7 linked regions of the Homo sapiens genome follow. The protein of the gene in region 6 interacts with the protein of the main gene of each other region in a pairwise test. Each region holds a gene or a part of one and is shown on either strand. Other genes may lie near its edges.

Region 1 (4,425 bases), on a different chromosome or scaffold from region 6:
TCAATCTCAGATCTTTTACCAACAGTAAGCGTGTAAGTGGAATACACATGGTCATTTTATAGCACTTAAAAAAGCACATATTTACACACTGGATTATGAGGTATCTAAGAATTTTTGCAAGAAAACTTAAAAAGCACATCTGTTGCATATGAAAGATAACATCTGATACATTAACAGATTTAGTATATCTGATTAACAAGGAATAGAAAACAAATCTTAGGAATGACAGTACTATGCTTATTAATTCAGGAGCAGATAAAAATGAAGCAGAAAAAAAGAAGAAAGAAACATGGTGAGTTCACTAAAGGAGATTTATAGGTACAGTTGGCCCTCCATATCTGTGAGTTCCACATTCCCAGATTCAACCAACCTCAGATCAAAAATAATAATAACAATAAAAAATAAGAAGCCAAGCATGGCAGCACGTGCCTCTGGTCTCAGCTACTTGAGAAGCTGAGGTGGGAGGGCTGCACAAGCCCAGGAATTGGAGGGCAACCTGGGCAACACAGCAAGACCCCATCTCTTAAAAATAAACAACAACAACAAAATACGAAAATAAAAAATAATACATATTTTATTTCACTTTATTTTATTTTTTGAGACGGAGTCTCGCTCTGTCTCCAGGACAGAGTGCAGTGGCACAATCTCGGCTCACTGCAACCTCCACCTCCTGGGTTCAAGCGATCCTCCTGCCTAAACCTCCTGAGTAGCTGGGATTATAGGCGTGCGCCACCATGCTCGGCTAATTTTTTTATTTTTAGTAGAGACGGGGTTTCACCATGTTGGTCAGGCTGGTCTCAAACTCCTGACCTCAGGTGACCCGCCCACCTAGGCCTCCCAAAGTGCTGGGATTATAGGCATAAGCCACTGAGCCCGACAATAATACATATTTTAAAACAACACAGTATAACAACTCAACTACACAGCATTTACACTGTATTAGATATTATAAGTAATCTGGAGATGACTCAAAATATACAAGAGGATGTGTGCAGGTAATATGCAAATACCATGCCATTTTACATAAAGGACCTGAGCATCAGTGAATTTTGATATCTGCAGAGGATCCTGGAACCAAGGGATAACTCTACATTTCCTAAATCAAAATTTGAGGAAAACAAAATCTGCTTATATTCTTTTTGACATCTAAATAAATATCGTTCTTCTTTTTTTTTTTTTTTTTGAGATGGAGTCTTACTCTGTCGCCCAGGCTGGAGTGCAGTGGCATCAACTCGGCTCACTGCAAACTCTGCCTCCCGAATTCACGCCATTCTCCTGCCTCAGCCTCCTGAGTAGCTGGGACAACAGGCGCCAGCCACCACGCATGTCTAATTTTTTTGAGATGGGGTTTCACCTTGTTAGCCAGGATGGTCTCAATCTCCTGACCTCGTGATCCGCCCGCCTCAGCCTCCCAAAGTGCTGGGATTAAAGGGGTGAGCCAGGGCTCCCAGCCTGTTCTTCTTTAATATGTAAACAATCTTCCTTCTAATCATTTATTCAACACAATTTTTTTAGTACCTACTATAATGTATGAAGGATTGTGTTAGACGCTGTAGATAGGGAGATGAGAAATCATTATCATATTTCTGAAATAGGCCTTGCCTATTACATGCCTGTAATCCTAGCACTTTGAGAGACAGAGGCAGGAATATTGCTTGAGGCGAGGAGTTCAATACCAGCCTGGGCAACATAGCAGGACCCCATCTCTACTTACAGAATACAATAGAATAGAATACAATAGAAGAGAATAGGCCTTTTCTACTTTCTTCACTGCTAGTCCTTTTCATACATCAGTTTTAATTCACATGTGTGAGAACCACATTATTTTACTTACTTACAAATACTTCTACATTTAAGTACATCTTGGAATAAAAAATGTTGAGATGTACTCTCTTAAACAATTTTATATTCTTTATGTCACATATGAAAAGTATAAACAGAGATCCAGCTAATAAGACAATGGGGGAACAGTATGAATAGCATGGGAAGATGACAATAATTTACTTACGGGCAAGAATTATGAAAACTACAAAGCAGCAAATAATATATAATTAATGTTTCTTTAAGGGGCAAATTTTACAATGACAAATGGAAGTGATCTAAATAGATGCAAGAGGAAAAATTTCCTAGCAGTAGGGTAAAAATATAATTAACACAACAGGTTTATCAATAAAACAGAAAATCCATTTCTCCCAGTGACTAAAGTAGCACAGAGTTCTGTTTCACAAATTTGCAATTATGATGCCTGGAGTCTAATAAATAATAGATTTAGCTATATTCAATTTCTTAAAACATTTCCATTTAAAATTATCCAATAATTAGCAAATAATTAAAATTTTAAAAAACAAAATTAAATAGCTAAAAACACCTACCTGTTCTTCTCTTTTTTGTTTTCTAAGCTGTATTCCTTCTTCTTCTCTTCGTCTACGCATCTCTTGAGGATTTAGGGCTTTATTCTTATAACTTTTCATTCTATAGTTATCTTTCCCTGGACTAGCCATGGCATCTTAAAGGAAGGAGAAAAGAAAACAGACACTGATAACTCACTCTCTCAAAACAACATGAGACACTTAATCTAGCAACTAAATTCAGGCTCACTGATTAACAGGTCAACAAAACCCATTCTGAAAATTATGTACAAAGAATACATTCCCTTAATTCCACATCAAGATTAGAGCAAAATGACCACATATTTTAGAAATAATATCTTAAACAAATAATTTTGGTCTAAACAAAGACAAAGTTTACCCTATCTTATTGATTCTAAGATGCAACAACCTTTCCTGTCTCCCTAGCCCCCACAGTGTTTTAACCTTTCTGAAACATAATTACTGTCAGGAAATAATCATGAATTATTTGGGTTAAAAAAAAAGTCTTCTAAATTACAGTTTCTGGCTAGATCAAGAAATAACCAGCTTTGAAGTATCTTATTTTTAATGAAATATGATATTAGGCTCCAGTAAGCACATCTCAAATATTTATTGGGGTCTGGCTTCTTTCACTTACTGAAGGCATTGCCTTAAGAGCTATGGCCACAAGGGTCAGGACTTGAATTATGACTACAATATCAGTTTTTAGTACTCCAGTATAATTAGTTCTTTTGAAATACTAAAATACATGTATACTTTATTTTTAAGTAGTTTTATTGCAAATGTATTTTAAAACATTAACATTTATATACCTATTTTATAAATACATAAAATATATGCAAATATATTTCATATTTGAATATATGTGCTAGTTTTACTTTTAGAAAGTGAATTATAAACTTTAACAATGTAACAGTATTGATATCTTGATATTATCTTATAGGAATATTAAAATACTGATATTATAACCTATTCTGGACTTACACATCACACACACACAAAATCTGCCTAAAGCAGGGTGCCAACTTCAGTTTAACAGTAGATAGTGAGTACCCAGTATGTTATTCTGTTAAATTCAGAGGACATATCCATGTCCAACCAGAGACAATGTTGTGACCAATTAGCTTATGAAGTAAACACAAGAGAAGGAGAGGCTGGCATCTGTCTGCCATCCCTGATATTGAAGAGACAGACTAATGAATTGGCAAATTTTATTGTAAGGAGTACACTAAAATACATGCTTTAAATCTTGAGAGAGCAGTGAAGATATGGCAACTAATTGTGCCTTAGGGACTTCTGAAAGCTTCATGGGTATCCTATTTTAAAGGAAAAACAGGAAAGAGAAATGGGGAGAATCAAGCATTTCAAGCAGAAGGAATATATGCAAAGGCAAAGTTTTTGAAGAAGCCTTGCATAACCAAGAACAGTAAGAGACTAAGTGTGTCCAAAATGAGGATGCATGGCAGAACATAAAGCTATAAAGGTAGGTTAGAGGACATATGGTTCCTATAATGCAGCTGTGAAATTTGGACTTGATCCTAAGGAATAGAATTAAACAAATTAAGGAAAAGGTTGTTTTTACATAGTTCAGAGAGAGAGATAGGAAAGATGCTGAAGGCGTGAACTAAACAAGTTACTACAATGAAAACATAGAAGACAAGTTGGATTCTAGAAATATTTCTGAAATTGATTCAGTAAAAATTAGAGGCCAAATGAATGTAACAGATATCTGGTGAGGAAGAAAAGGGAGTTGAGGATGACTCCATGGTTTTTAACTGAGCCATCTGAGTAGTATGGCAAGATAACATAAGACAGAGAATACGGATGGAGGATCAGAGTAGTGGTTGTTGTGTTTACATATCGGCTTGTTTCTGAGACAAGAATAATGAATTCCGTTATTTTAGGTTTATTTTTAAATTTATATTTAGTAAAAATCACTCTTTTCGTATACATTTCTATGAATTTAACAAATATACATGCATGTAACTATCACAATCAAGACACAGAACAGTTGTCACCCCCTAAAACTCCCTCAAGCTGCTCCTATTAGCCCTCC
Region 2 (4,425 bases), on a different chromosome or scaffold from region 6:
TTTTTTAATAGGTTAGTTAGGCCCATTCACATAGGTTGATAGATTGATTTGAACTGTCATTTTGTGAAATAATGTCCCTGTGTTTTTTTTTTTCTCTGCTAAGCATACTTTTGTCTTTCTCAATTTTCTTTTGGTATTTGGGGAAGTTTGTATTTTTGTTCTAGTGGTTACCTTTATTCTTACACCTTTTTAATGCTCTCTTACTATCTGTTTTGACAGTTTTAAATGATATATTTTTTTACTTCTGTCTCTTACCTGTGCAATGATGCATGAGCTTATTCTATTTTCTCTTCTTGCCTCAACCTCCCATTTTTTAATCTGATTCTAGACTTATCTATTTTGCCAAATTTGGAACATATTTCTTCATATTTTTTTCAGCTCCGCCTTTCCTTGTAGGGTCTCTGAAGACACAAATATTAGATCTATTGTTATTGTGCTGGAAGTTCCTGAGAGTTAATTTCTGTTTAATCTTTTTTTTTTTCTGTTATTCAGTTTGGATGATTTCTATTGATGTATCTTTGGGTTCATTTATTTTTTTTTCCCCCTTCTATCATGTCGGGTTTTTTTGCTGAGAATTCCCACTTTAAATTTGTTTCAAATGTGTTCATAATTGTTCACCAGTGCATTTTTATGATAGTTACTTTAAAATCTTATCAAGTCCTTGTCAGATAATTCCAATATGTGTGTCATCTCAATATTGGCATCTGTTGACTGTCTTTTCTCTTTTGAGAATTTCCTGGATCTTGGTATGAAGGGTTATTTTCCATTGTAGCCTACACATATTGGTGTTATGCTTTGAGACCCCTGTTTCTAGGTAAATCTAGTTACTGTTACTGCCAGGGTGGGCAGTAGCCAGACTTTGTTCTCAGACCCAGCATCTGCAGACACCTCCAGCAGGGAGGCCTCCTCACTTCCAGAGTGGGAAATGGGCTGGTAGGTGGGCTCAGCTCTTAGGCCCAGCTTCTGTCCTCTCTTTTACACAGTCTTGAGGCAAGAGGTCCAGACAAAAGCTAGAATTTAATTTTTTCTCCTCTTACAGATAATGGAAATTTTTAGTGTTCTCTGACTCTTAGTAATGCTGAAGGGGTGTGGGTTATATGTGTAGTTCTATTTTATTTATTCATCTATATCCTTTTTTGAAGGGTATGTGAATTCAGGTGCCTGCTATTATTTTAGGGCAAAAAGATGTGATGTCTTCAATTTGGATGACCTAATAGGAAACATCTTGATTTTGCATAAGCTACAACCAGTGCTTATATTCCTCTGTGACGACACCAAGCAATGCCACATACAAGATCTTTGACCTTGAATGAATCACCAGATCGCTAAGCCTGTTTTCTTCTATGTAGTTGCAAAGTTAGGATAGGCCTAGGGCATGGTTTATACTCCAGGTTTATACTTCAGTTGGGGACACATTTCAGGAGATTTTCAAACAGTTTTTTCCCCAGATGAAGTTAAAGTGCCAAGTCATTTCTTTTATTGGTTTACTTTAGTAGCCTGAAAAATTGTATTGCTAAATATGTTGGAAAACCAGTAGAGTAAATAGATGACCTTTCTGTTCTCTTCTGAACTTGAAACAGTATGGTGTGTTGGCCTCATTCTTGTAAATAGTGTTTTTCTGTGGGATTATTAGGTAGCTAATTTGTGAGGGCAGGGAGAATTACTTTTCTGCCTGTTTTTAAATTCATCTGTCTGATACATAAATGCAGAAGTTGGAATAGAAGTTTTCCCAGACTTCTGTGTCTCATTTTCTGTGAAGAATGATCTGAGGTAGGCACTGAAAGAAAGATAAGGTACTTTCTACTTAATAGATTAATCAGCTAAGCAGATATTTTTGCCACTAAGCTAAAACTTGAAATTTGGTTACTTTTTCTGTCACTACTCCTGAGGTGTGTTGAACAAGTAAAGCATTCAAACAAATATGTAAAATGGTTTTTCTTTTGTGTTTCCTGTAGATTCTTGTAGACACTGTTTGGGCTCTGTCATACTTGACAGATGGAGGTAATGAACAGATACAGATGGTTATTGATTCAGGAGTTGTGCCCTTTCTTGTGCCCCTTCTGAGCCATCAGGAAGTCAAAGTTCAAGTAAGTATTTTTAAATTTTTCTTATTTGTATACAGTTGTGTTTGCTATAACCAGTTAACTTGTACAGCTAGGCTTTAATTCTATCTGTAAGTGCTTATCTTCCACATTTCTTCTGCTAGTCCCTGAGCCTGATTTTGTTGATTTCCAAATCTTTATCTCACCCAGTTTCTTTGCTGAGTTCCACACTTGTATAGCCAATTGTTCTTGACCCTTTATACATATCATCTAAGAACTCCTTCAAGCTTTCCGTGGTTAACTAGACAGAAATGAAACGATCATCTCCCACAAACCTGCTCTTCTTCCTTGTCTACCTTCAGTGAACAGCATGGCCTAAGCTAGAAATTTTGATTCCTCCTTGCAATTCCCATTCCATTACAAAATCATTTCAATTCTTCTTATATAGGTTCAAATCTGTCTCTCCTTATCTATCTAGAACAACAGATTTAGTTCAAGACTCTATCTTTCCCCCAAATAATTGCAATAACCTAATTGCATTTCTTCTTTCTCTCTCCCACTCTAATTAGGGGTAGGCACTTATTAGATCTGTTCATCCTGCTTTACCAAAGTGACTTTCTAGGTGGAAGTGTGTGCCCATTCCAGGCGTTTATTAAAATATTATATATATTTTTGAGATGGAGTCTTGTTCTGTCGCCCAAGCTGGAGTATGGTGGCGCGATCTCTGCTCACCGCAGCCTCTGCCTCTCAGGTTCAAGTGATTCTCCTGCCTCAGCCTTCAGAGTAGCTGGGATTACAGGCATGCACCATCACACCAGCTAATTTTTGTATTTCTAGTAGAGATGGAGTTTCACTATGTTGCCCAGGCTGGTCTTAAACTCCTGACCTCAGGTGATCCCCCCCGCCTCGGCCTCCCAAAATGCTGGGATTATAGGCATGAGCCACCATGCCCAGCCTTAAGAAACTGGACTTCTTCTAAAATTTTAATTTCCTTTTATTTTTTGAATCTTTTTCCAACCAATTTTCACACAATTTTTTTTTTTCATAAAGTTTCAGTTTTTCACAAGAGACTATTTAAAATTCAGAATAGCTCTCAGACTGCTTGGTGCTTTGTGAAAGGATGAAATAAGTGTTATTTATGCCTTGCATTTTTACTTTTTCTCAGGATTATGAAAAATATAGAATTAGTCTTATAAGCAAATAAATTTATAGAAAACATTTTATCCCCACCCTAGACAGCAGCCCTCAGAGCAGTTGGCAACATAGTGACTGGCACCGACGAGCAGACCCAGGTTGTTCTCAATTGTGATGTCCTGTCACACTTCCCAAATCTCTTATCACACCCAAAAGAGAAGATAAATAAGGTAAGGCATATAATGTCCTCATTATGCTATTTCTTTCTGTGTCTCATTTTTAACTGTCTCCTTGTTTCTATTGCTACTTGTATGTTTTTCTTAAAAGCCACTGCAGCGAAGATGAGAATTATTTTAAATCACCTCTGCAAATGTTTTTCTTCAACTTTTTTTTTTTTTTTTTTGAGACAGAGTCTGTCTGTTGCCTAGGCTGGAGTGCAGTGGCACGATCTCGGCTCACTGCAACCTCTGCCTCCTGGGTTCAAGCGATTCTCCTGCCTCAGCCTCCCGAGAAGCTGGGACTACAGGTGCCCGCCACCACGCCCAGCTAATTTTTGTATTTTTAGTAGAGATGGGGTTTCACCATATTGGCCAGGCTGGTCTCGAACTCCTGACCTTGTGATCCGCCTGCTTCAGCCCCACAAAGTGCTGAGATTACAGGCGTGAGCCACCGCGCCCAGCCTTTTTCAACTTTTAATCGCTTCTGGTAGGTGCTGCCCTGGTCATCACAGAGTAAAAAACATTTTTAGACTACCTGTGTTTCTATTTAAGTAGACTGAGCATAGCAACAATCATTAAATTAGTAGCCGCTTGAAAGTGCAGACAAAATCTGCCATTTGAATGGGCTGGTATTTTTTTAAACAAACCGATCATAAAAATTTTGATCTCCCAGCAAAATTAGTTTGGACCCAAAGACGAGGTGCCTAAATTCAAGGATCATAAAAAATTACTCTTTTTAAGATTTCAAGCTTCATAGACAAGTTTATTATTAATTGTGTAATATGTACTTACTAGTATGTAATAAGTCTTCATGCCTGGCTTATTTCATCTAGCATGTTTTCAAGGTTCATTCATTTTGCAGCATGTGTCAGAACTTTATTCTTTCTATGGCTGAATAAATATTCCATTGTATGTATACACCACATTTTGTTTTTACATTCTTCTGTTGATGGACACTTCGGTTGTTTCCACCTTTTCACTATTACGAAGAATGCTGCAGTGAACATTGGCATACAAATACCTATTTGAGT
Region 3 (3,824 bases), on a different chromosome or scaffold from region 6:
CAAAAAGTACATGCATTCATTAAGCATAAAGAAAATCAAAATGATCAATAACTTTACTCTTCAGAGAAAACTACTCTTTGAATTTTGGAGTGGGTGAGCCCGATTGTCTATCCATTTATTCATTCTCTTGACCAAAATCATCATTTTACAAATGGTGGGTGTCTTCCTCTGGACCTTCTCTGATATGCTTCCCTCTCTGAGCATATGGATTTTGGAAATTAAACATTTCTCCAGTTTGCAGAGAAGAGAAATGATAGTATACTGTACTATCATCTGACCTGCTTGTTCCCGACACACTTCTTTTAATTCATCCCAAGTTTGCTGCCATGGCATAGTACCATGAGAGCTCATGAGGCGTTTTGTTAGGAGAAAGGTTTACCTCCTCAGTGCTGCCATTCCGAACAGTTCGAGGGTAGCAACAGTTTTCTAGTTATAAGTCAGTCTGGGCTTTTGGGTCTGTTAGGAAGTCATGGTTAATTCTCAGGATGGAGGTCGTTATATTTACTAACACTTCTGATCACTTTAACTTGGGGTCATTACAGATCTGCTTCTTCAAAGAATCTTTAATCCCATCAGTGAAAGGTTCCCAAGGTCCCTGAACCATACTTTACTGAGAGCTCCTCCCACTGCTCTCTGTCCCAAAGCTTGAGATATGGGCTCTGGGGGTCATAGGGTTCCCAAATAAATCCAGATTTGCAGGGAGAGGGGATGTGTTTTGATGAAGGTCCTCATGCTATAGGTTCTTCAAAGATGCTAGCAGAGGTTAGAGACAAAAATCCTATTAATTTATGGATAGTGGCAACCATCTAGCTGGACAGTTGTCAGAACCTAAAGTGCTTTAGAGGCTTGATACATAGGCAGCTTTCTTCTAGCTGTGGCCAGTGGAAGGACTAGCTCGAGGCCCAATCTTAGATTTATCATATGGAATTCCAGTACTTCACGTGAAGGCATCTTTAATGATCAGACTTGTTGGCAGAGTTCCTCGGGAGGAGGGAGCCTGGGGCTGTGGCTGTGTGATGTGTTCCTCAGTAACCACAGGTTTGCCTCTCTCCTCACAGCCCCCAGTCCCCAGCCAGACCTCCTCATACTCCTGCATGCTGCCCACCAGCCCTTCGGTGAATGGGCGGAGTTATGATACCTACACCCCCCCACATATGCAGACACACATGAACAGTCAGCCAATGGGCACCTCGGGCACCACTTCAACAGGTGAGCCACTGCTTTCTGCAGGCTGCACAGAGGCGATCTCTCTTCACTAGAAGTTTACCCAAACAGAATCTCCTGGTCTTATGGGAGGGCGTGTTTAACTCCTTGCTTTCCTTGTCCCTGGGGGATGGGGATTGAAAAGGGAAATTCAGTTAAGCTAATTAGTAACTTTACACCATATAGACAAAAACTAAAATTGTTTTTCCTGAATTTGGTCACAAAAGTTGTGTATGAAGACAAGGCCTGAGACTGCAAGTTTTCTGAGGACAGATTATTAGACGAAGCTCAGTAGGGGGCCCACTGAGCTGTAGGTGCGTGCTTGTTGAAATGCTTCTTGCCCTCATAGCTCCTCTAGACCTTTTGCTGGAAATAAAAAGTGACACATTGGTTTTCCAGAGACAGCTTTATTGTAAAAGTTCCAAACATGCAAACAAACAGAGGATTTTTTTTTTCTTTTCCTTTGGATTGGGGTGGGGGGTACTTGGGATCCAATAGGTATATATACATATATTGTCTAGTTTCTGAAGGTGCTACTTTTATTTGTAACAATTGAAGTGATTTTAATACAGTAAAAAATGTTAGAAAGTATTAGTTTTTTTTTTTTTTTTTTTTTTTGTAAACCTATAAATTTGTATTCCATGTCTGTTTCTCAAAGGGAATATCTACATGGCTATTTCTTTCATCCACTTCTAGGACTCATTTCCCCTGGTGTGTCAGTTCCAGTTCAAGTTCCCGGAAGTGAACCTGATATGTCTCAATACTGGCCAAGATTACAGTAAAAAAAAAAAAAAAAAAAAAAAGGAAAGGAAATATTGTGTTAATTCAGTCAGTGACTATGGGGACACAACAGTTGAGCTTTCAGGAAAGAAAGAAAAATGGCTGTTAGAGCCGCTTCAGTTCTACAATTGTGTCCTGTATTGTACCACTGGGGAAGGAATGGACTTGAAACAAGGACCTTTGTATACAGAAGGCACGATATCAGTTGGAACAAATCTTCATTTTGGTATCCAAACTTTTATTCATTTTGGTGTATTATTTGTAAATGGGCATTTGTATGTTATAATGAAAAAAAGAACAATGTAGACTGGATGGATGTTTGATCTGTGTTGGTCATGAAGTTGTTTTTTTTTTTTTTAAAAAGAAAACCATGATCAACAAGCTTTGCCACGAATTTAAGAGTTTTATCAAGATATATCGAATACTTCTACCCATCTGTTCATAGTTTATGGACTGATGTTCCAAGTTTGTATCATTCCTTTGCATATAATTAAACCTGGAACAACATGCACTAGATTTATGTCAGAAATATCTGTTGGTTTTCCAAAGGTTGTTAACAGATGAAGTTTATGTGCAAAAAAGGGTAAGATATAAATTCAAGGAAGAAAAAAAGTTGATAGCTAAAAGGTAGAGTGTGTCTTCGATATAATCCAATTTGTTTTATGTCAAAATGTAAGTATTTGTCTTCCCTAGAAATCCTCAGAATGATTTCTATAATAAAGTTAATTTCATTTATATTTGACAAGAATATAGATGTTTTATACACATTTTCATGCAATCATACGTTTCTTTTTTGGCCAGCAAAAGTTAATTGTTCTTAGATATAGTTGTATTACTGTTCACGGTCCAATCATTTTGTGCATCTAGAGTTCATTCCTAATCAATTAAAAGTGCTTGCAAGAGTTTTAAACTTAAGTGTTTTGAAGTTGTTCACAACTACATATCAAAATTAACCATTGTTGATTGTAAAAAACCATGCCAAAGCCTTTGTATTTCCTTTATTATACAGTTTTCTTTTTAACCTTATAGTGTGGTGTTACAAATTTTATTTCCATGTTAGATCAACATTCTAAACCAATGGTTACTTTCACACACACTCTGTTTTACATCCTGATGATCCTTAAAAAATAATCCTTATAGATACCATAAATCAAAAACGTGTTAGAAAAAAATTCCACTTACAGCAGGGTGTAGATCTGTGCCCATTTATACCCACAACATATATACAAAATGGTAACATTTCCCAGTTAGCCATTTAATTCTAAAGCTCAAAGTCTAGAAATAATTTAAAAATGCAACAAGCGATTAGCTAGGAATTGTTTTTTGAATTAGGACTGGCATTTTCAATCTGGGCAGATTTCCATTGTCAGCCTATTTCAACAATGATTTCACTGAAGTATATTCAAAAGTAGATTTCTTAAAGGAGACTTTCTGAAAGCTGTTGCCTTTTTCAAATAGGCCCTCTCCCTTTTCTGTCTCCCTCCCCTTTGCACAAGAGGCATCATTTCCCATTGAACCACTACAGCTGTTCCCATTTGAATCTTGCTTTCTGTGCGGTTGTGGATGGTTGGAGGGTGGAGGGGGGATGTTGCATGTCAAGGAATAATGAGCACAGACACATCAACAGACAACAACAAAGCAGACTGTGACTGGCCGGTGGGAATTAAAGGCCTTCAGTCATTGGCAGCTTAAGCCAAACATTCCCAAATCTATGAAGCAGGGCCCATTGTTGGTCAGTTGTTATTTGCAATGAAGCACAGTTCTGATCATGTTTAAAGTGGAGGCACGCAGGGCAGGAGTGCTTGAGCCCAAGCAAAGGATGGAAAAAAATAAGCCTTTGT
Region 4 (5,026 bases), on a different chromosome or scaffold from region 6:
GGGATTACAGGTGTGAGCCACCACGCCCGGCCCCTTTGCCCTCATTTTAGATGACTCTTTCCCTCCTCATAACCAAAAGCAAGGAACAGGCTGGGTGTCACCTGAGGTCAGGAGTTTGAGACCAGCTTGACCAACATGGAGAAGCCCCATCTCTACTAAAAATACAAAATTAGCCAGGGTGATGGCACGTGCCTGTAACCCCAGCTACTCGGGAGGCTGAGGCAGGAGAATCACTTGAACCGGGGAGGTGGAGGTTGCGGTGAGCCAAGATCGCGCCATTGCACTCCAGCCTGGGCACCAAGAGTGAAACTCCATCTCAAAAAGAAAAAAAAAAAAAAAAGCAAGGAACACCTTTGTCTGAAAAAAGCACCCTAAATTTAGCCTAAGAACTAAGTTTTCAGCTGGGCGCGATAGCACAAGCCTGTAATCCCAGCACTCTGGGAGGCTGAGGCGGGTGAATCACAAGGTCAGGAGTTCAGGACCAGCCTGGCCAACATGGTGAAACACCGTCTCTACTAAAAATATAAAAAATTAGCTGGGCATAGTGGCAGGTGCCTGTAATCCCAGCTACTCGGGAGGCTGAGGCAGGAGAATTGCTTGAACCCGGGAGGTGGAGGTTGCAGTGAGCTGAGATCGCGCCACTGCACTCTAGCCCAGGCCACAGAGCGAGATTCCGTCTCAAAAAATTAAAAAAAAAAAGAAAACTTTTTTTTTTTTTTTTTTTTAGACGGAGTCTCACTGTTGCCGGGCCAAGAACTGAGTTTTCTAAGAAAGCTCTGCCTTTTCCTGAGTTCTCTGAAAATGTGGAAGCCCTTCCAAGAGGCCAGTTCTTTGGGAGCTGGGGAGCCATCTGGGGCCTGTGGCCATCCTTGGCCACAGTTCTCCCTCCTTGTACCCTGGTCATGTCTTCTCAGGTTGCTCCGATTTTGGGGTCTTATTTACTGGCTGATTTCCTTGCAAAGGCCAAGGCGGAGTTCAAGGTTCAGCTGGGTGAAGGGCATGCCTGGCTTCCTGAGAATTAGGAAGGGTGACTGATGGCTTGAGACACATTGCTCTGCGGCTGGATTTCATGGTTACTATTCCATCCCGGGACCTGACGCGGATCAGTCTCCCCTTTCCTGTGGCTGGAGGGGCACACTCCGTCCCTGGAGAGCGTCTGGTAGGGGCTTGTAGAGGGGCGGGGAGGACTTCCAGAGGCCCGAGGACAGGCGCCAGGCTTGGCTTCGGGGCTGGGGCAGCTGCCATGTGCTCTCAGAGCACTGAGGGAGGAGCGGGGGAGCCCGGGGGCGAGAAACCCACAGCACAGGGAAGGGAAGGGCAGCCTTGAAACTGCAAGTTGGGAGATCACGGTTTCCTCACGTGGCCACCATGAGGGCTGAGGCTGTAGGCTGGCCGCTCCTGCCCCTCCCGACCACCCCCTCAGGCTTCCAGCCTCCTTGCTCAGCCACCTAGGCTGGGCTTTCAGGTTCACAGGCAGCCGGCCCTACAACATGGAGGCCCAGGCTGGGCTTTCTTCAGGAGTGGCATCTAAACTTAGGAGAGGGGAACACGTTTCACCCGAATCTGGGCTAGCAGTGTGTTGGTTAAATGGCCCCTGAGTAGGTGTGGGGCATGGCAGAGGTGCAGGAGTGGGTGTCCGAGGATGCAGCCAACTCATCTCCAAACAGCTCCTTTTCTTTTCCCCAGTGGGCTGCATTCCCAGACTGGTATTTTAGTTGGTGTGACAGAGTCCCAGAGTCATCTGGCCCAGGGGCTTGCACCTGCGCCAGTCCTTCCCTGTCCACCCCTGCCCGTCTCCAGGCGCTCCTATAAAGGGCTGAGCAGTTCAGCTCTTCTCACTGGGGGGTGTGAGGAACAGGGGGGACCATGGACTTCATCAGCATTCAGCAGTTGGTAAGGATGTGGGACGGAGGTGGGAGGCACCCTGGGACCGGCTTGATAGGAGGAGGCTGGCTAGAGAGGGCTGGCAGCTTCTTTCTGTGGTGTGAGGGTCAAGTCTTAGGTGCAGGGAAGCATGCAGTTCTTTTATAAAAATCTGTATTTTTTGAAACGGAGTCTTGCTGTGTTGCCCAGCCTGGCCTTGAAGTCCCACGCTCAAGTGATCCTCCCACCTGGGCCTCCCAAGTAGCTGGGACTCCAGGCGTGTACCCCCACACCCGGCTGAGCGTGCGGTTCTTTCTGGTGTGTCTGCTCGGTTCTCATGTGAGGTGGTGAGGGGGTTAGGGAGCAAGAGAGGGAAGTCGAATGGGAAAGAAGACATGAAAATCCTTGAGTTCAGTGAGTTTTGCCCTGGATAGTGATGGTGAAAGAGGAACAGGAAATGGCAGGTTACTTTGGAAGATGCAAGTGTGGCTGTGGTGGTTGTAGTTCAGCTTAAGCACCATGATAGTTGTTGCTCTGGAAATGGCCAGAGGTCCTGGCTGCCTTGGGGATAGGGAAGGGTGCTCTTTCGCTCCCTGGGCAGTGAGGGAAACAGTGACTCTTAGGGATGTCGGTTTGAGTGACGAGGGGCCTGGAGGGTGTGAGGCCCAGCAAGCCCATCTGTGGGCTGCTGGCCCCAGCCTGGTGCAGCCTCTGGCGGGAGGCAAATGGCAGGGAGGTGTTAGGTTGCTAGAGTTCTTTAGAAGGAATATGGTTCTACCTGACTAGAAAGTCCTAGGATCTGTTACCCTATCATTCCACCCTGTTCTTTCCCCACAACAGGCTGATTCCTCAGTGCTCCCCAGCTCCTGAACTCCTGAGGTGGGGCCCGGTGGGAGGAAGCATGGGTGTTTGCTACGGAGGCTTTGCCCCAGGCACAGGTCCCAATAACTCATAACCTTCACAACTCCTTTAGGCAATTGCCTTAAGTGTTTGAGCTTAAATGTAGCTTCAAAAGGAGCCGAGAACTGAACCCAGGCATTTAGAATTTTACCCCGGGGGGACTTCTCTGTCCCTCTGAGCTTGGAGTCAGGTGGCAGTCAGTATGATCTGGTAGGAATCTTAACAACATGGGGGAAGCTAAGGTGTCATCTGCCCTGAGGCTACCTGGGCAAATGCCCAGCAGTATAAATAGGTTGTGGCCTCATGTCCCCCCAGCTGTGTTCCTGCTGACAGGAGCAGGGTAGGCGGGGATCCGTTGTCCCCCTGGGTGTCAGCTGATGACACAGTTGCGGAGCCTGCAGCACCCACAGGGTGAGGGAGCTTGCCAGCACTCTGGACTGCAGGAGCTTTGAGGCCGGCTCCCATCCCGGGCACCAGCCTTGTGACATCTGCCCTTATAAGACAGCTCCCTGCTACTCCACAGCTCTGTTTTCTAAGGGTTCCTCCAATTTTCCCAACTCAGTACTCATATCCTGTTCCTACAGGTAAGTGGAGAAAGAGTTGAAGGGAAAGTGTTGGGATTTGGACATGGAGTTCCTGACCCTGGAGCCTGGCCTAGTGACTGGAGGAGGGGCCCCCAAGAGGCTGTGGCCCGGGAGAAGCTGAAATTGGAAGAAGAGAAGAAGAAGAAAGTGAGAGAGGGGCGGGGGCCGGGGTTGGGGGCAGTGGCTAATCCCTGAGGCCGGCTGAGCAGTGAGGCCTGGAGGGACTCTGGTGGGGCAGCCTGAGCAGCTGGTGTCTCCTGTCGGCAGGGCAGAGAGATCTCTTGACCAGCGGCTGATGGCTGGCATGGTCTTGTCTTCTGCCCCAGCTTGAAAGATTTAACAGTACCAGATTTAATCTGGATAACCTGGCTGACTTGGAAAACTTGGTTCAAAGACGGAAAAAGCGACTGAGACACAGAGTCCCCCCCAGGAAACCTGAGCCCCTGGTTAAGGTGAGTGGGAGGTCGGGGTTAGGGCAGTGCACACACCAGGGCTCCAGTTCCAGAGGAAGGGCTTGGGGCAGAGTGGGCACTGCAGGCCAGGACCACACAGCCAGTGCCTGGGGAGCCCATTAAATCCACTCCAGAGCCCCCGCGGATGTGTCCGCCAGGGCTGCCATAACAAAGTCCCACAGCCTGGACAGCCTCAACAGCAGGCATGTGTCACCTCGCTGTCCTGGGGGCTGGAAGGCTAACAGGAAGGTGTTGGCGAGGCTGGTTCCCTCTGAGGGTGGTGAGGGAGAATCCCTTCATGCCTCTCCGGCTTCTGGTGGATGCTGGTGATCTTTGGCGTTCCTTGGCTTGTAGATGTATCACCCAACTATTGCCTTCATGTTTGCTGGGCGTTCTGCCTGTGTGCATGCCTGTGTCCATGTGTCTCCCCCAACTTTTTTTTTTTTTTTTTTTTTTTTTTTGAGACGGAGTCTCGCTCTGTTGCCCAGGCTGGAGAGCAGTGGCACGATCTCGGATTACTGCAAGCTCTGCCTCCCGGGTTCATGCCATTCTCCTGCCTCAGCCTCCCGAGTAGCTGGGACCACAGGCACCCGCCACCACGCCCGGCTAATTTTTTTTTGTATTTTTAGTAGAGATGGGGTTTCACCGTGTTAGCCAGGATGGTCTCAATCTCCTGTCCTTGTGGTCTGCCCGCCTCAGCCTCCCAAAGTGCTGGGATTACAGGCATGAGCCACCGCATCCGGCCCACGTGTCCCCTTTCATAAGGACATCAGTCACATTGGATTAGAGCCCACTTTAACACAAGTCATATTGGTGAGGGGCCCACCATACGCCGGTGTGACCTCATCTTAACTAATTACATCCTCAGTGACTCTGTTTCCAAATAAGGTCACATTCTGAGGTACCTGGGGTTAGTACTTCATACGAATCTTGGGGAGATACAAGTCAATCCATAACACACACGCTCACACACACACAGTCTATTCAATCTCCTGGCGTGGGATTAGAATAAGAAACTGCATTAGTACGAGCCAGCAGTGTTCCTTGGTGGGCTGCATGGGACCCGTGGGCCAGACTGGTGAAGCTGTGACATCTTGGGCACCTGCGGCCTTCGGGAGTGATTTGGTCTTGTCTTCAACTGAACCAGCCGCAGTCCCAGGCCCAGGTGGAGCCTGTGGGCCTGGAGATGTTCCTGAAGGCAGCTGCTGAGAACCAGGAGTACCTGAT
Region 5 (4,425 bases), on a different chromosome or scaffold from region 6:
CCTGAGTGACCCAGACCATTGCTGAGTCACTGTGGAGCACCTACTGTGTGCCAGGCACTGTTCTCAGCACTTGAATTCAGGGTGTGTTGGGTGACAGAATCAAGGCTCCTCAGCTCCTTGCTGGAAACGGCACTCACTGGGATGTGCTTGACACCCAGAGGGCATTACAGCAAAAGGCATAACACCTGCAGTACTTCATTGTAAGGGCGACAGCAGCTCCTGCCCTCCAGGCTTCTCTTGCTGCTCACAAAGTGAGGAAACAAGGACTGTGGGTCCCAAATTCCACCCTGTACAAGTGTGCCATTATGCTTCCTCCCATAAAATCTTCTTAAATCTTTGCCTGGTTGTTGCCAATCTGTTCTAGAATTCAACAAAAGCTTCTGTCTGGCTTAACAAAGAATCATAACTTAAGTTATTTTTGGATAATTATGTCAATACAAAAAGAACTATGTCCACCAGGAACTGAGCCCTCAACAAGTGACCCTCTAACCCAGGAGACAAAAGCCACCCAAAAGTTTGGCAGCTAGCAACACCACCTTTCTCTAACATAAAAGGATGTTTTCATTTTAAATAAATTCAAGTTTTTCTATGAATAAAATATACATATCTGTGTAATATGCCAATATGATAATTTTTTAAAAACCAAGTTGATACATAATGCATTTTTATGTTTCTACACTAACAAAGTGACTTGCAGCTGTAAAAGATGCTTTAAAAATAATCAAATCAGATTCAATTTTTGTGGGGGAAGAGAGAGAGAATTAAATTTTTTGAAAATATATTTAAAATCTCCAGAAAGGCCACATCTCTTGCCTGGATGAGGGAGGTGGCATCACGGAACACAGGGAAATGGGAGTGGTCTTCCCAGGGACAGACATTGCACACTTATCTCCACCTGGTCTCTTCTAGTAAATTACTGTTAAATTCTAGGGTGGCTCAATATAGACTCTTTAAAGGCCAATGGAGCAAAAATGAGGGAAACATCCCTGTTAGAATTTTTAAGTAGAAGATACAAAACCTAAACATTGCATATCTCTCCCCTCTGCTCTTCGGGATTCCTAGAAAAGGGGGATGGAAAGATGGGAATAGGTCCTTCAGTTCTTTCAAGTGAGACCTGAGACATCCTTAGTCCTGTGGCCTTTGACCGCGGCAGGAGTCCACTTGCACCCACCTCCACAGGCCCAGCCCCTGCAGCTGGTCGTGCTGAGAACACAGCTTTCCTTCACAACAGTTGGGCCCTCCTAATGACCTTTCAGGCCCTGATTTCAAATATAGCATCCTATTATATATCCCATCACACTTGCTAGAGGATGGGTCCCAATTTTTGGTTTAAAAAATGTGGCCAACGCGTATGCACACATTTCTCTGCTAAGAATTGGAAGGCACTTAGCTGAAGAAAAGACTTACTGACACGGGGGGTCGTCATGAAAGTGTTGGGCAAACAGATTGCAGAATCACATATATGGTGATTCCATCTGTGTTTTGAAATCATCTATATCTGCTATATATGTAGATGTGTATATATGTACACACACACATATCCTCATACTGACATTAAAATTAAGAGGCCAGGTACCTCTGGAGAGTGAGGGAACTTGAGTGTAAAGGAGTCACATTTTACGGCACGTACTTCTGTATTACTTGGTGTGTGTGTGTATGTGTCTGTGTGTGTTTTACAAGATCATATTGCCCTGGTAATTTAATTAATAAAATAAAAATTTCTAGTCTTGCTGGTGTCATATGGAGTCAGAGTGTTGGTTGTCTTTGATGACGAAACGAAGTAACATCTTCACAAAGGGGAACCTAGAGGTAGGGGGCCCTTGGTTTGGAAAAGCACAAATACATCATGGTGAGCAGCCGGCCAAGGACAGGTGCCCAAAAGCCTCAGGTCAGAGTAGACCACAAGCTGGCCATGAGTCAGCCAGTGGAGTCACAGCATTTTTAAAGCACAGAATAGAGTAGGGTAATGAGCTTCTGAGAGGAGCAGAATGTGGATTCAAATCCTGACCCTGTGTGACCTTTCCTGGGGAATGGGGCTTCTCTGTGCCTCAGCTACCTCTCCTGTAAACTTGGGATGATTACAGTACCTACTTCACAGATCTAGCGCGTTAATATAATAAGCACCATTTAAGCGCTAGCAACTGTTACCAGAAAAGAAAAGTCCTGGTAGCAAGCATGCAGATATATTCTTAGCTCTCAGCAAAGTAGGTTATGGTATAAAAATACCATTAAATAGTAACTAAACTAGCATCACCTTAATGCACATCTTGCCAGCAATCTCAGCATGTGCGACTTCTTTTTAAACTACCCTACATTAAGGAATCAAGACCAGGAGGACTCTTGCTGGCCTCCTGGGAGCCAGGCCGGAAGGCAGAGGCCCACCCAACTCACCCCTTCCCCACCTCGGGCCAGGCACTGGGGACACAACCATGGCAGGGAGCCGGACCTCCGCCTCTCTGTGGGTAAGCTGTCCAGCACATCAGATGGGGCAAAGTGCCAGGGAGAAGACAAGCTAGGGGGAGGGGCAGGGAGCAGTGGGGAGGCAAAAGGAGAGCCAGGGCAGGGGGCATCTGGGAGAGCCTGCTGAGCAGCCCAAGGGAGTGAGCTGTGAGGGGTCAGGGGAAGAGAGGCAGCTTGGCCAAGGCCCCCGAGGCAGGGAGTGCCTGGTGTGCTCTGGGGAGAGAGAAAGCAAATACGATGATCCCTCCTCCTCCATTCCTCTCTTCCCTGGCAACCGGCTCAGAGCTTGGAGACTCAAAAATTGATTCGCTCTGAATTTCCTAAGTTTATCTATTAACTACCTAACAGGCCATTCGCTTGTTCACAGTGTGCCTCTCGGCAGAAGGCATCCGCCAGCTGACAGTGATGCCCCCGCGAGCGGTCAGGCCACACACACCCCAGGATATAGTCGCTTGCTGGCGACTGGGGTACCACTGGATGGAGTCAAGGACATATCAAGGTCAGTTTTGGGCCTATCTCAGGTTTAGTGGGAGAGATGGGAGGGGTGGGAGATGCCCTAGACTGGAGCTCAGGGGCCATTCTTGCTGCCTGGGCTTGGGCAAGTTGCCAATCTTTCCTGAACTTCGGTTCTTTGTCTGTAAAATGGGGCTGGGGAGAAGGGCCTTTCTGGACAATTGGAATCAAATAAAACCAAACATTTAAAGTAATGTACACATTAGGTGTTGTTACAACATGGCCCAGCCCTAGCTGCCATCTCCGCCAAAAAAGGAGGGGCCCATGAACCCCTGAAATGAAATCCAAAACCTCGTGGGAGATGCTTTCTTCTAGGGAGATCTCCATGTTTGAAAAGAGACAACTCCCCAAAAATGGAAGATTCACGAGGCTGAATACAAAATGTGAGACCTCTTCCTACCCAACAAACGGTCGACACTGACAACCCATCAACACTGACAACCTGCCAACCTGAGGAATGGCAGCACCCAGGGAAAGGGGCGGCCCCAACGCTGCTGTGTGAGTGGACACTGCAGGGAGAGTGGCGGCACCTGCAAAGACAGAAGACTCGAGGACCCTCCTCGGCAGCCCCACTGCCAGGGACACACCCTAAAGAAACTCTCACACCTGCGCCCCAGACGCATTCAGGGCCCGGGCCGTGACGGTGCTGGCCACAGTGTGCTGAGTGACAATGGAACACAGGAGACAACCTAGATTTCCATTGGGATGGGGGCACGCAGGACAGTGTTCACACTACAGGTCGCCACGCAGCAGCCTGCGATCAAACACATCGACGAGCACAGGTGTCAACAAGACTGTTGAGTGAAAAGTACAAGTTCCAGGTTTTTTATGTAAAGTTAAGAAAAACACCCACACAAAACAATCCTATATATTAGTTATGGATACTTATATCCATGTGTAAATGTACCCGAAAGAGCCTGGGAGGAAAAATACAAAAGCAGTAGTTGGAAGGAAATGGGTTACTTAATATTTCTTTGTAATACTTCTTATAATTTTTTTAAAAAAGGACTTAAAGCCAAAATGACAAAAGAGTAACCATTTTCAATTCTGTGTAGAAGAGATACTGTGTTCATTTTATTATTTCTGGGATTTTTCTGGATTTTTAAAGTTTATCCAATATAAAAAAAATAAAAACTGCACTGTTGGCTGGGCCATGCCGGGCTGAGGGCTTCCTTGCCTTGCTCTGTACCTGCTCCCACATGGGCCACCAGGCTAGTGTCTGTGAGCCCTGCCAGGCTGAGCAGGGAAGGGCACACACTCCCTATAGAGCTGGGCAGGGCAGGGCCCCAGAAAGCGGCCCCTCTTGGCTGGCTGACCCTGCTGCCCAGGCCTCTGGGGAAGATTCGGGAGCAGAGACAGCAGAAAAGGATGGGGCAAGGGAGGGGAAAGGCCAGTGGCCTCGTCACACATGAGCAGCTGTGGGCCTGAGGCCAAGCCCTTCCTTTGGGCAGG
Region 6 (4,425 bases):
ATGCATCACTTAACAGCAGGGATACATTCTGAGAAATGTGTCGTTAGGTGATTTCATCATTGTGTGAACATCATAGGGTGTACTTAACACAAACCTAGATGGTGTAGCCCTACAGCACACCTAGACTGAACGGGATAGCCTATGGCTTCTAGGCTGTAAACCTGTACAGCATGTTACTGTACTGAATACTGTAGGCAGTTGTAACGCAGTAGCATCTGTGTATCTAAACATCTAATCACAGAAAAGGTACAGTAAAAATATGGTATGAAAAATTAAAAACCACACCTGTTTAGTGCACTTAACATGAATGGAGCTTTCAGGACTAAAAGTTGCCCTGTGGGAGTTAGTGAATGAATGGCAGATTAATGTGAATGTGATGGTCTACACGCTCAGGCTACACTGTATTTATTAAAAACCAGTAACAGGCTGAGCGGGGTGGCTCACGCCTGTAATCCTAGCACTTTGGGAGGCCCAGGCTGGTGGGTTGCCTGAGCTCAGGCGTTTGAGACCAGCCTGGGCAACATGGTGAAACCCATCTACTAAAATACAAAAAAAAAAAAAAAAATTAGCCGGGCATGGTGGCATGCGCCTGTGGTCCCAGCTACTCGGGAGGCTGAGGCAGGAGAATTGCTTGAACCCAGGAGGCAGAGGTTGCAGTGAGCCAAGATCATACCACTGCACTCCAGCCTCACCACACATGTGAGTAATGTGTTTCACAACGGCATTGTGCTATGATGTTACAACAGCTATGACATCACAAAGCAGTAGGAATTTTTCAGCTCCAGTATAATATGGGACCACAGCTGCACACGGTCCGTTGTTGACTAAAATGTTATATGGTGCATGACTGTGTTTAAATATTCCTATATTTTTATATTGTTTATTTTAAAGTTCTATGGCCAGGTGCAGTGACTCACACTTGTAATCCTAGAACTTTGGGAGGTTGAGGCAGAAGGATCCCTTGAGGCCAGGAGTTGAAGACCAACCTGGGCAACATGACAAGACCCCCGTCTCTACAAAAAATTTTTTTAAAAAATTAGTTGGGTGTGGTGCCATATGCCTGTAGTCACAGCTATTCGAGAGGCTGAGGCAGGAGGATTGCTTGAGCCCAAGAGTTGAGGTTGCAGTCAACTATGATCATGCCACTGCACTCCAGCTTAAACAACAGAGCAAAACCCTATTTCAAAAAAAAAAAAAAAAAAAAAAGGCCGGACGCAGCAGCTCACACCCGTAATCCCAGTACTTTGGGTGGCCGAGGCAGGCAGATCACCTGAGGAGTTCAAGACCAGCATAGTCCAACATGGTGAAACCTCATCTCTACTAAAATTACAGAAATTAGCCAGGCATGGTGATGGGCGCCTGTAATCCCAGCTACTTGGGAGGCTGAGGCAGGAGAATCGCTTGAACCCGGGAATGGGAGGTTGCAGTGAGCTGAGATCGCACCACTGCACTCTAGCCTGGGAAACAGAGTGAGACTCTGTCTCAAAAAAAAAAAAAAAGTTTGGTATATATCTTTATTCAGACCTTGCATACTCTAACATATATGTGGGTATATGTATTTTTTAACCCCAAAATGGGACTATTCATATGGCTTTTTGGTTGGGTTTTGTTTGTTTGTTTTTGTTTTTTTGTGACAGAGTCTTGTACTCTTTCACCCAGGCTGGAGTGCAGTAGCGCAATCTCAGCTCACTGCAACCTCCGCCTCCTGGGTTCAAGGCATTCTCCTGCTCATCCTTCCGAGTAGCTGAGATCACAGGCACATGCCACCACGCCAGGCTAATTTTTGTATTTTTAGTAGAGACAGGGTTTCACTGTGTTGGCCAGGCTGGTCTCGAACTCCTGACATCAAGTGATCCTCCCACCTCAGCCTCTCAAAGTGCTGGCATTACAAAGTCGTGATCCACCACACCCAACCTAGTCATACTGTTCTATAACTTGATTTTTTATATGACAGTGTATGTAAAACTTCCTTTCATGTTAGTTTCTGTAGATTTGTCTCACTCTTCATAATGACTGTATCATATTCCACTTAATGGCCGTGCTATATTTTATTTTAGTGTACTCGGTACTGGTCATTTGGGTGTTTCTAGTTTTTTACTCTTACAAACAATCCTGCTGTGAATATTTTTGGACAGTTTTGTGGTAACTAAAATTAAAACTTTTTTTTTTTTTTTTTTGAGACGGAGTTTCGCCCTTGTAGCCCAGGCTGGAGTCCATTGGCGCAATCTCGGCTCACTGCAACCTCTGCCTCCCAGGTTCAAGCAGTTCTCCTGCCTCAGCCTCCCAAATAGCTGGGATTACAGGCATGCGCCACCACGTCCAGCTAATTCTGTATTTTTACTAGAGACGGGGTTTCACCATATTGGTCAGGCTGGTCTCCAACTCTTGACCCAAAGTGATCCACCTGCCTCAGCCTCCCAAAGTGTTCGGATTACAGGCCTTAGCCACTGTGCCCGGCCTAAAACATCTTTATTTCAGTAAGGTCAGGAGTTCTAAGTTCCCAAACCCATTTTAAGTGTCCTTTGCTCCATAGATCTTCAGATCCCTACCTGTTGGCTATAACATCTCTAAGCAAGTTCTTGATCAGTATCTCACTCTGCTGGCAGATGATCCAGTAAGTCTGTTTTTGCTTTTTTTCTTTTTTCTTTAGCCTGTACTGTTGATAATTTATTTCTGCACTGATACCTAGTGTCATCCTCCTGCAGAGTTATTCTCTACCTAGCCAGCCCAGACAATTTCTCCACATCATTTGATAGGAGGGCTACCTGCTGCAGACTTTTGGTCAGATTTGTTCCATTGGAAACAGAATCACTGGACTTTCCGTTCAGTTAACACTCTCTCTTTTTCTTAATAGCTAGAGTTTGTTGGAAAGTCTGGCGACAGTGGTGGAGGAATGTATGTCATCAGTATCCTTACCAGTTATTTCCTTAGAGTCAGGCAGCCTGACCTATAAATCAGAATGGTGCCTTAGGAAAGAAAGATTTGGTAATGTTTATTATACTAAATAAATTAGAAAATTGAAGTAATTGTTAAATAAATTTTTCTATGAATTTTCAGTGAACTGCATTGATGATGAAGTAAAAAGAGGCCAGGCATGGTGGACTTTGGGAGGCTGAGGCAGGTGAATTGCATGAACCCAGGAGTTCAAGATCAGCTAAGCAACATGGCAAAACCCCATCTCTACCAAAAATACAAAAACTAGCCAGCTGTAACGATGCATGCTTGTAGTCCAGCTCCTCAGGAGGCTGAGGTGGGAGGATCGCTAGAGCCCAGGAGACAGACGTTGCAGTAAGCTGAGATCATGCCACTGTACTCCAACCTGGGTGACCCTGTCTCAAAAAAGAAAAGGAAAAAGGACTTTTAATCAACCAAATTTTAGTTAAGCAAAACCCTTACTTAAACACTTGTATTAAAGTTTTGGAATATTTATGTACCATGACTGAAACCATAAATTATAACATGAAAAACAAAATAGCATTTAAAATTTAATTATAAATTAGAAACTTAGGAATAAAACTCAGATCACAATAACTAGGCCAAAACATTACTGAGTGACCTTAATTCTCTACATAAAGACCTCCATAAGGCATTAGCATCCCTAGCCACAGCCACTCTGGAGTCCGTCGTACAGGAGAGGTAAGGGGGACACTGGTTGGGTTTGGGATCACATACTTCCTATCCCCAGTGAAGTAATTTGATCATTATGTAAGCCACCAATATAACCACACCTTGGCATACTTTTCCCCATTTTTTCACTGGACTCCTATGGATCTCATGTAATACTGCTCTTTACCTTAAAATAACCTACTGTTTAATTCCTACCGATGCAAATTAACCAGCCTCCCTAAAGCCTTTGCTTACAAATGTAGGAACTGTGGCACTCAAATGAGTCAGCAGTTGGTGACTGCCTTATGATTAACAGCAGTTGGTGATGCCTTACCATCACCAACCTATGGAGCTGTAGAATAATTTTCTGATCACTGTTCCTGTCTGGTACTGGCTTCACACATGGAATAGAACAACCACCCCATCTATGACTGGGAACTAAAGCTGATCTATGTTAGCATGCCATTTGCTTTCTTCATTCCTTTCCAGATTTGGGTCTCGCTGTGCTAGAATATTCCGTCTAGTTTTGCAGAAGAAACACATAGAGCAGAAGCAAGTGGAAGACTTTGCAATGATTCCTGCAAAGGAGGCAAAGGATATGCTATATAAGATGCTCTCAGAAAATTTCATGTCACTCCAGGTAACCAACCAAGGGCGTAATAATTGCCAACCAGCAAAGCTGGCCTAGGGTGAGAGAAGCTTCTTAGGCAAACATACTGAACCCCCAAGCAAACTCTATATCCAGCTCTGAGACAGAAAAACATGATTCACAGAGACATAGCGAGCACTTGGAGGATAATTTGGGGCCTTAACTGCCCT
Region 7 (4,425 bases), on a different chromosome or scaffold from region 6:
TTAAAACCCACTACAATTGTGCTGTTGGTTACCGTGCAGTTTCCTGGAAAGTAAAACTTTAATGACTGGAGTGTGAAGAAAATTAAGTTATTTCAACCTTACTATAGCCATTTTTGAAATAGAAGATGTGATTTAATATAAAAAAGTTAATGCAATTTTAATGCAAGTTCAGCTTATTGGGTTTGACAATACTGTACATCACACATAGCTCTTGCATTAATAAAGAAATACAATCATTATTTTTTAAAGTCCAATATTTGTTTTTTGCAGCCTGGTGTGGGCTATATGGAGATGTAGAACACAATTATAAAAGGCTGGGCTTTTTTTTTTTTTTTTCCTTTTTACCTCTATCATTTAGTGTGAAGCTTTCAGAGTTCATCCTGCTTTTTTGGAAAGAGAAGCTGAGACTTGGGCCTTTCTCTCCCTTTTATTGTCATTATTGCTCCTGGAAGTTAATGACTTTAAGCACATTGAGGGCTCACCCAAGTTTAGAGTGAGGGTTGGCCTTGACATTCTTATTCCACTCGCCACCAAGACTCCCTATGGCCTCAGATCCCGTAGTCCATCTCGGAGGACAGATCACTCTGTGCCTGTGGACAGAAAGCCTGGGGAAATGTCTGCTGGCTTATGGAAGCCTAGAGAGTTTTCCTGGGACTCTCAGGAACAGGATTTTTGGTGTCATACGCTTTATAATTTTATGCTTGTAACATTGTGTGTGTGTTCATGTAATTATGTGTGTCTGTGTGTGTGTATGTCTGCACACCTGCCTGTGAACATACTGGGGGTAACACACTCTAATGCCTTCAGGTTGGGTAGGCAGCCCCACAGGCCCAGGTCAGTGAGGAGTGGTGGCCCTCCGACAAACTGGAGAGTGCATGCCCTGCCTTGAGCCCACAAATCCTATTTTTAAAATGCTGCAGGCCAAAACCCCCAAATCTATGACCCATATATGGTCTGAGAGCTACTTATTTGCCTTCCCTCTTACCATAATATCACTATTGGCAGTGATGTAACACCTGGAATCTGAGGGCCAGCATATAATTTTGTATACATTCCCGAAGTATATTTATTTTGCTCATTAGAATAACTGTATTTTTTTAAAAAGGGAAGCACAGTTACTTGGTGTGAATTTAGCAAAGTGCACAAATACATTAGGAGCAAGGCCTGTGGGGTCTAAAGCAGCAGTTCTAAACTCAGCTGTGCAGAATCCTAGGGCTCTGCAGAGTCTCCCCCAAAGGGTCCTGAAAGGAACACTGCAGGGAATGGCCAAGTATGGGCTTAGCCCTCTCCACACCTCCCCTCATTCTTCAGATAAAGCAGCCCCACTTCTCTAAATCTGTTCTTTGTATTGGAGGGGATACAAGAAAGGGGTAAAACATGGGCTGTGGAGCAGCCTTCCTGGGCTTGAACTTGAACCCCCTCTCAACTAGACATGGGACTTGGGCAAGTTACTAACCTCTCTGTATCTCATTGGTAGATTAACTACAGCATTAGAATAGTGCCTGGCTATTATACATTGAGCTTAGTAGTATGCCTGTATTTAATTTCCTACCCCTCACATAAGAGTTTTGCATTGGTTCTTGTAGAAGAACAACAGATACAGGATTATTATGTTCCACATGGCTCCCACAAGGCTGCAATGAAAGTCCTGAATCAAGGACTCTAAGATCAAATGACTCTTGTGGTCATCTGGCTTGACCAGGGCAGGAATCCTTCCCATGTCATCCTGGTGAAGAGCCCACGTGCTGCACTCAAAACATGCCGAGCAGTTGCCTTTCCCTACCAGAGAAGGGCTGTTCCATCCATAGTGGATGTAAACATGTGTTTGTATAATATCATTTTAATTGGGCAAATGATGTTAGAGTAATAACAAAAGAATTATTTTCAAAGATTTTAAGTTTTATCCACATCAAATATTTTTATGTCTTACATTCTGTTTTAGATCTTGTCATTGTACATACATAATTCTACCATTTTAACAATAATCATTCAAGTTTACTTAATAGTTATCCAGCTTACTTTCTATTTTATTCTCATATTATAAACATTTTCTATTTTTCTAAAGAGGTGTCATAATGATCCATTTTAATGACTATGCAATATTTCATCTAGTTTAGTACTGTAATAAGCTATTTTCAATATTTATGTATTTTGAAACAATACATGTTTTTATGCAGTTATCTTATTTCCTTTTGAATAATATCTTCAAGCTATATCCTAGGAGTATATTCTGAGTTAAAGGGGGATAAATATTTTTGCAGCTCTTGATAATCTATTTCTAAATTGCTTTCCAAAAGGATTATGCTAGTGTACATGTCCCCCAGCCATAGATCTGCATAATGGTGTCAATACAGACTTTCCAGCATTGAGTAAATTTTCTACATTATTTTTGTTAATTTAAAAGTCAAAAGTAGTATTTCGTTGCTCTTTTTGAATCAAAAAATCCCACTGATCCCAATGAGTTCTTTCTGGAACAACAGAGAATAAATTAGCTGAGAGCTTCAAATATATGAAGATAGGATCAAATGGAAACTCAATGGAAGAGTAGCATATAAACGTAAGTTATTACTTGTAAAGATATTTGAGTTCCTCACAAGAAGTCCAAACCAAATGAAATTTTCCAAAGAAATCAATGAAATGCAACTTTGAAAATTTTTTTCTACCAATCATTTTTTTTTAATGAGATAGGGCATGTTTTTTGGTACTTCTTCGGGAACTTTCTGACCCTACTTAAGTGGAAAGAAGATGTTTTTAAAACCCATGCCTTGGTTCCACAGGAAAGTGAGCTAGCTGTATCTGTTTCCTTGCAGCCACTTCTGACGGCACAGCAGTTAGCTTCTGCTGTGGCCGGCGTGATGCCGGGAGGCCCCCCAGCCCTCAACCAGCCAATCCTCATTCCCTTCAACATGGCGGGACAGCTAGGAGGCCAGCAAGGACTGGTTCTCACACTGCCAACAGCGAATCTCACCAACATCCAAGGGCTGGTGGCAGCAGCTGCAGCCGGAGGCATTATGACTCTGCCACTGCAAAATCTACAAGGTAATCCATAATGTCCATGCGCCACGTAAGGCTCTACCCGTTGGCCAGTATTCTCTGAAGTGGGCAAAAAAAAATGTGCCTAGAATGGTGAATGTGGTTCAGAGTTGCTTCTGCCCTAAATGATATGGAAGGCTTCCACAGGAAGCAAAATTTTCAGTTGTCTGTGAATCCTGAGCCTGCACAAGCCATTGGTTTTATCAATCCTCATTTCCTAACATTGGTATCAAAACTTTTCAGGACTCCTGGAAGCATTTATGAGTCATCATTGCATGACATATCAGAAACTTAAAAGTAAAATTCCTGTGTTGTTATTTGAAGACCTGAGTTATCATCTCACCAATTCTTCAATTTAGCCATGGGTAAAGAAAAGTTAGAGGTTGCTTTTTTGTGTTTGAAGTGATTGGAACATCTCAAATACAAGATATTATTTGGAATAATTTATTAATGATTATTTTGCTCTACAAAGTATGTTTTAGTTATAGTTATTAAACAAAAATTGTGTTATTTGAGCTCATATTTTGCAATGAGAAAAATAGACTTGTATGTTGAGCCTTTATACTACAGGGACATATAACAAGTCAGACTCTAATTTTACTTAGGAAGGGTAGTTGTCTTGATATTATGAAGGTTTTGACTTTTCTTTAAAAGATTTGGTAGCATTGACTGATAGATTGATTTACAAAAGATTCTGTCAGAGGAGTAATTATTTTGGTGGAAAATGACCTGAATATAAATAGGATGCCTGCTAAAGAGAAAATGAATTTATTTTGGACTAGTCAAAGATGTTTGTTTTCTTCATATATATATAAAATTAACAATTAAAATTTTTGCAGAATGAGGGCCTGTCTGGGTAAGTTATCAGAATAGCAATTTAAAATACTTTTTTAGCTGGTCAAATGTTAGGGCTTCATATAATTTATCGGAGAATCAGTCCACAAGACTAAGAAACAGACCAAGTAAGAACTGTTCACTCTTGACCCAAACTTCTTTCCGTTCTCTATGTTCTGTTACCCCACCCATTGTTGCCACTTCTTGACTTCCATTTTGATGTTTAAAACGAAGTCTCTCTTGTACCATTAAATTGTGCCAAGAAACCTGCCATTCATAAATCATGCATGCCCAGGATACGCTAATGCACAAACTTTGCTTGTTTCAAATTTGAGAGTGCCTGGGAAGCCAGATCTCAAGATTAAGCAAATAAAGCAGGAATACACAAGGTGAAAGCCGAAGCAACAAAGTGTAGGGAGAGGCGTTTTAATGTAGGTGGATGATGAAATCTTAATGAAGAAATGGGCATTATCAAAATGCAGCCTTCCGTTTGGAACATTTGTGCTTATGGGAATATTGAATATTATAAATAAACATAAGCTCAAAGAGCTCCTAGGC

The links.
Region 1: the proteins of POLR3C (region 6) and KPNA5 interact in binary tests that used the Homo sapiens proteins (3 or more experiments, as listed by UniProt).
Region 2: the proteins of POLR3C (region 6) and KPNA3 interact in binary tests that used the Homo sapiens proteins (3 or more experiments, as listed by UniProt).
Region 3: the proteins of POLR3C (region 6) and PAX6 interact in binary tests that used the Homo sapiens proteins (3 or more experiments, as listed by UniProt).
Region 4: the proteins of POLR3C (region 6) and ANKRD23 interact in binary tests that used the Homo sapiens proteins (3 or more experiments, as listed by UniProt).
Region 5: the proteins of POLR3C (region 6) and CAMK2B interact in binary tests that used the Homo sapiens proteins (3 or more experiments, as listed by UniProt).
Region 7: the proteins of POLR3C (region 6) and POU6F2 interact in binary tests that used the Homo sapiens proteins (3 or more experiments, as listed by UniProt).

Annotation. Positions count from the first base shown.
Region 1 is NC_000006.12:116,687,401-116,691,825, reverse strand, and holds part of KPNA5 (importin subunit alpha-6), read right to left. Parts: intron 2,507-4,425; coding exon 2,373-2,506; intron 1-2,372. UniProt on the Homo sapiens protein: Functions in nuclear protein import as an adapter protein for nuclear receptor KPNB1. Binds specifically and directly to substrates containing either a simple or bipartite NLS motif.
Region 2 is NC_000013.11:49,708,553-49,712,977, reverse strand, and holds part of KPNA3 (importin subunit alpha-4), read left to right. Parts: intron 1-1,955; coding exon 1,956-2,087; intron 2,088-3,277; coding exon 3,278-3,406; intron 3,407-4,425. UniProt on the Homo sapiens protein: Functions in nuclear protein import as an adapter protein for nuclear receptor KPNB1. Binds specifically and directly to substrates containing either a simple or bipartite NLS motif.
Region 3 is NC_000011.10:31,788,095-31,791,918, reverse strand, and holds the end of PAX6 (paired box protein Pax-6), read left to right. Parts: intron 1-1,058; coding exon 1,059-1,209; intron 1,210-1,594; exon of another isoform or gene 1,595-1,899; coding exon 1,900-1,985; coding exon of another isoform or gene 1,986-2,289; 3' UTR 2,290-2,893; downstream 2,894-3,824. UniProt on the Homo sapiens protein: Transcription factor with important functions in the development of the eye, nose, central nervous system and pancreas. Required for the differentiation of pancreatic islet alpha cells.
Region 4 is NC_000002.12:96,840,833-96,845,858, reverse strand, and holds the start of ANKRD23 (ankyrin repeat domain-containing protein 23), read left to right. Parts: upstream 1-1,837; 5' UTR 1,838-1,866; coding exon 1,867-1,893; intron 1,894-3,347; coding exon 3,348-3,494; intron 3,495-3,673; coding exon 3,674-3,799; intron 3,800-4,946; coding exon 4,947-5,026. UniProt on the Homo sapiens protein: May be involved in the energy metabolism. Could be a molecular link between myofibrillar stretch-induced signaling pathways and muscle gene expression.
Region 5 is NC_000007.14:44,318,429-44,322,853, forward strand, and holds part of CAMK2B (calcium/calmodulin-dependent protein kinase type II subunit beta), read right to left. Parts: intron 4,128-4,425; exon of another isoform or gene 3,180-4,127; intron 2,960-3,179; exon of another isoform or gene 2,841-2,959; intron 1-2,840. UniProt on the Homo sapiens protein: Calcium/calmodulin-dependent protein kinase that functions autonomously after Ca(2+)/calmodulin-binding and autophosphorylation, and is involved in dendritic spine and synapse formation, neuronal plasticity and regulation of sarcoplasmic reticulum Ca(2+) transport in skeletal muscle.
Region 6 is NC_000001.11:145,833,961-145,838,385, forward strand, and holds part of POLR3C (DNA-directed RNA polymerase III subunit RPC3), read left to right. Parts: intron 1-2,533; coding exon 2,534-2,614; intron 2,615-2,854; coding exon 2,855-2,906; intron 2,907-3,057; coding exon of another isoform or gene 3,058-3,060; exon of another isoform or gene 3,061-3,531; intron 3,532-3,575; coding exon 3,576-3,636; intron 3,637-4,095; coding exon 4,096-4,246; intron 4,247-4,425. UniProt on the Homo sapiens protein: DNA-dependent RNA polymerase catalyzes the transcription of DNA into RNA using the four ribonucleoside triphosphates as substrates.
Region 7 is NC_000007.14:39,204,582-39,209,006, forward strand, and holds part of POU6F2 (POU domain, class 6, transcription factor 2), read left to right. Parts: intron 1-2,810; coding exon 2,811-3,039; intron 3,040-4,425. UniProt on the Homo sapiens protein: Probable transcription factor likely to be involved in early steps in the differentiation of amacrine and ganglion cells. Recognizes and binds to the DNA sequence 5'-ATGCAAAT-3'. Isoform 1 does not bind DNA.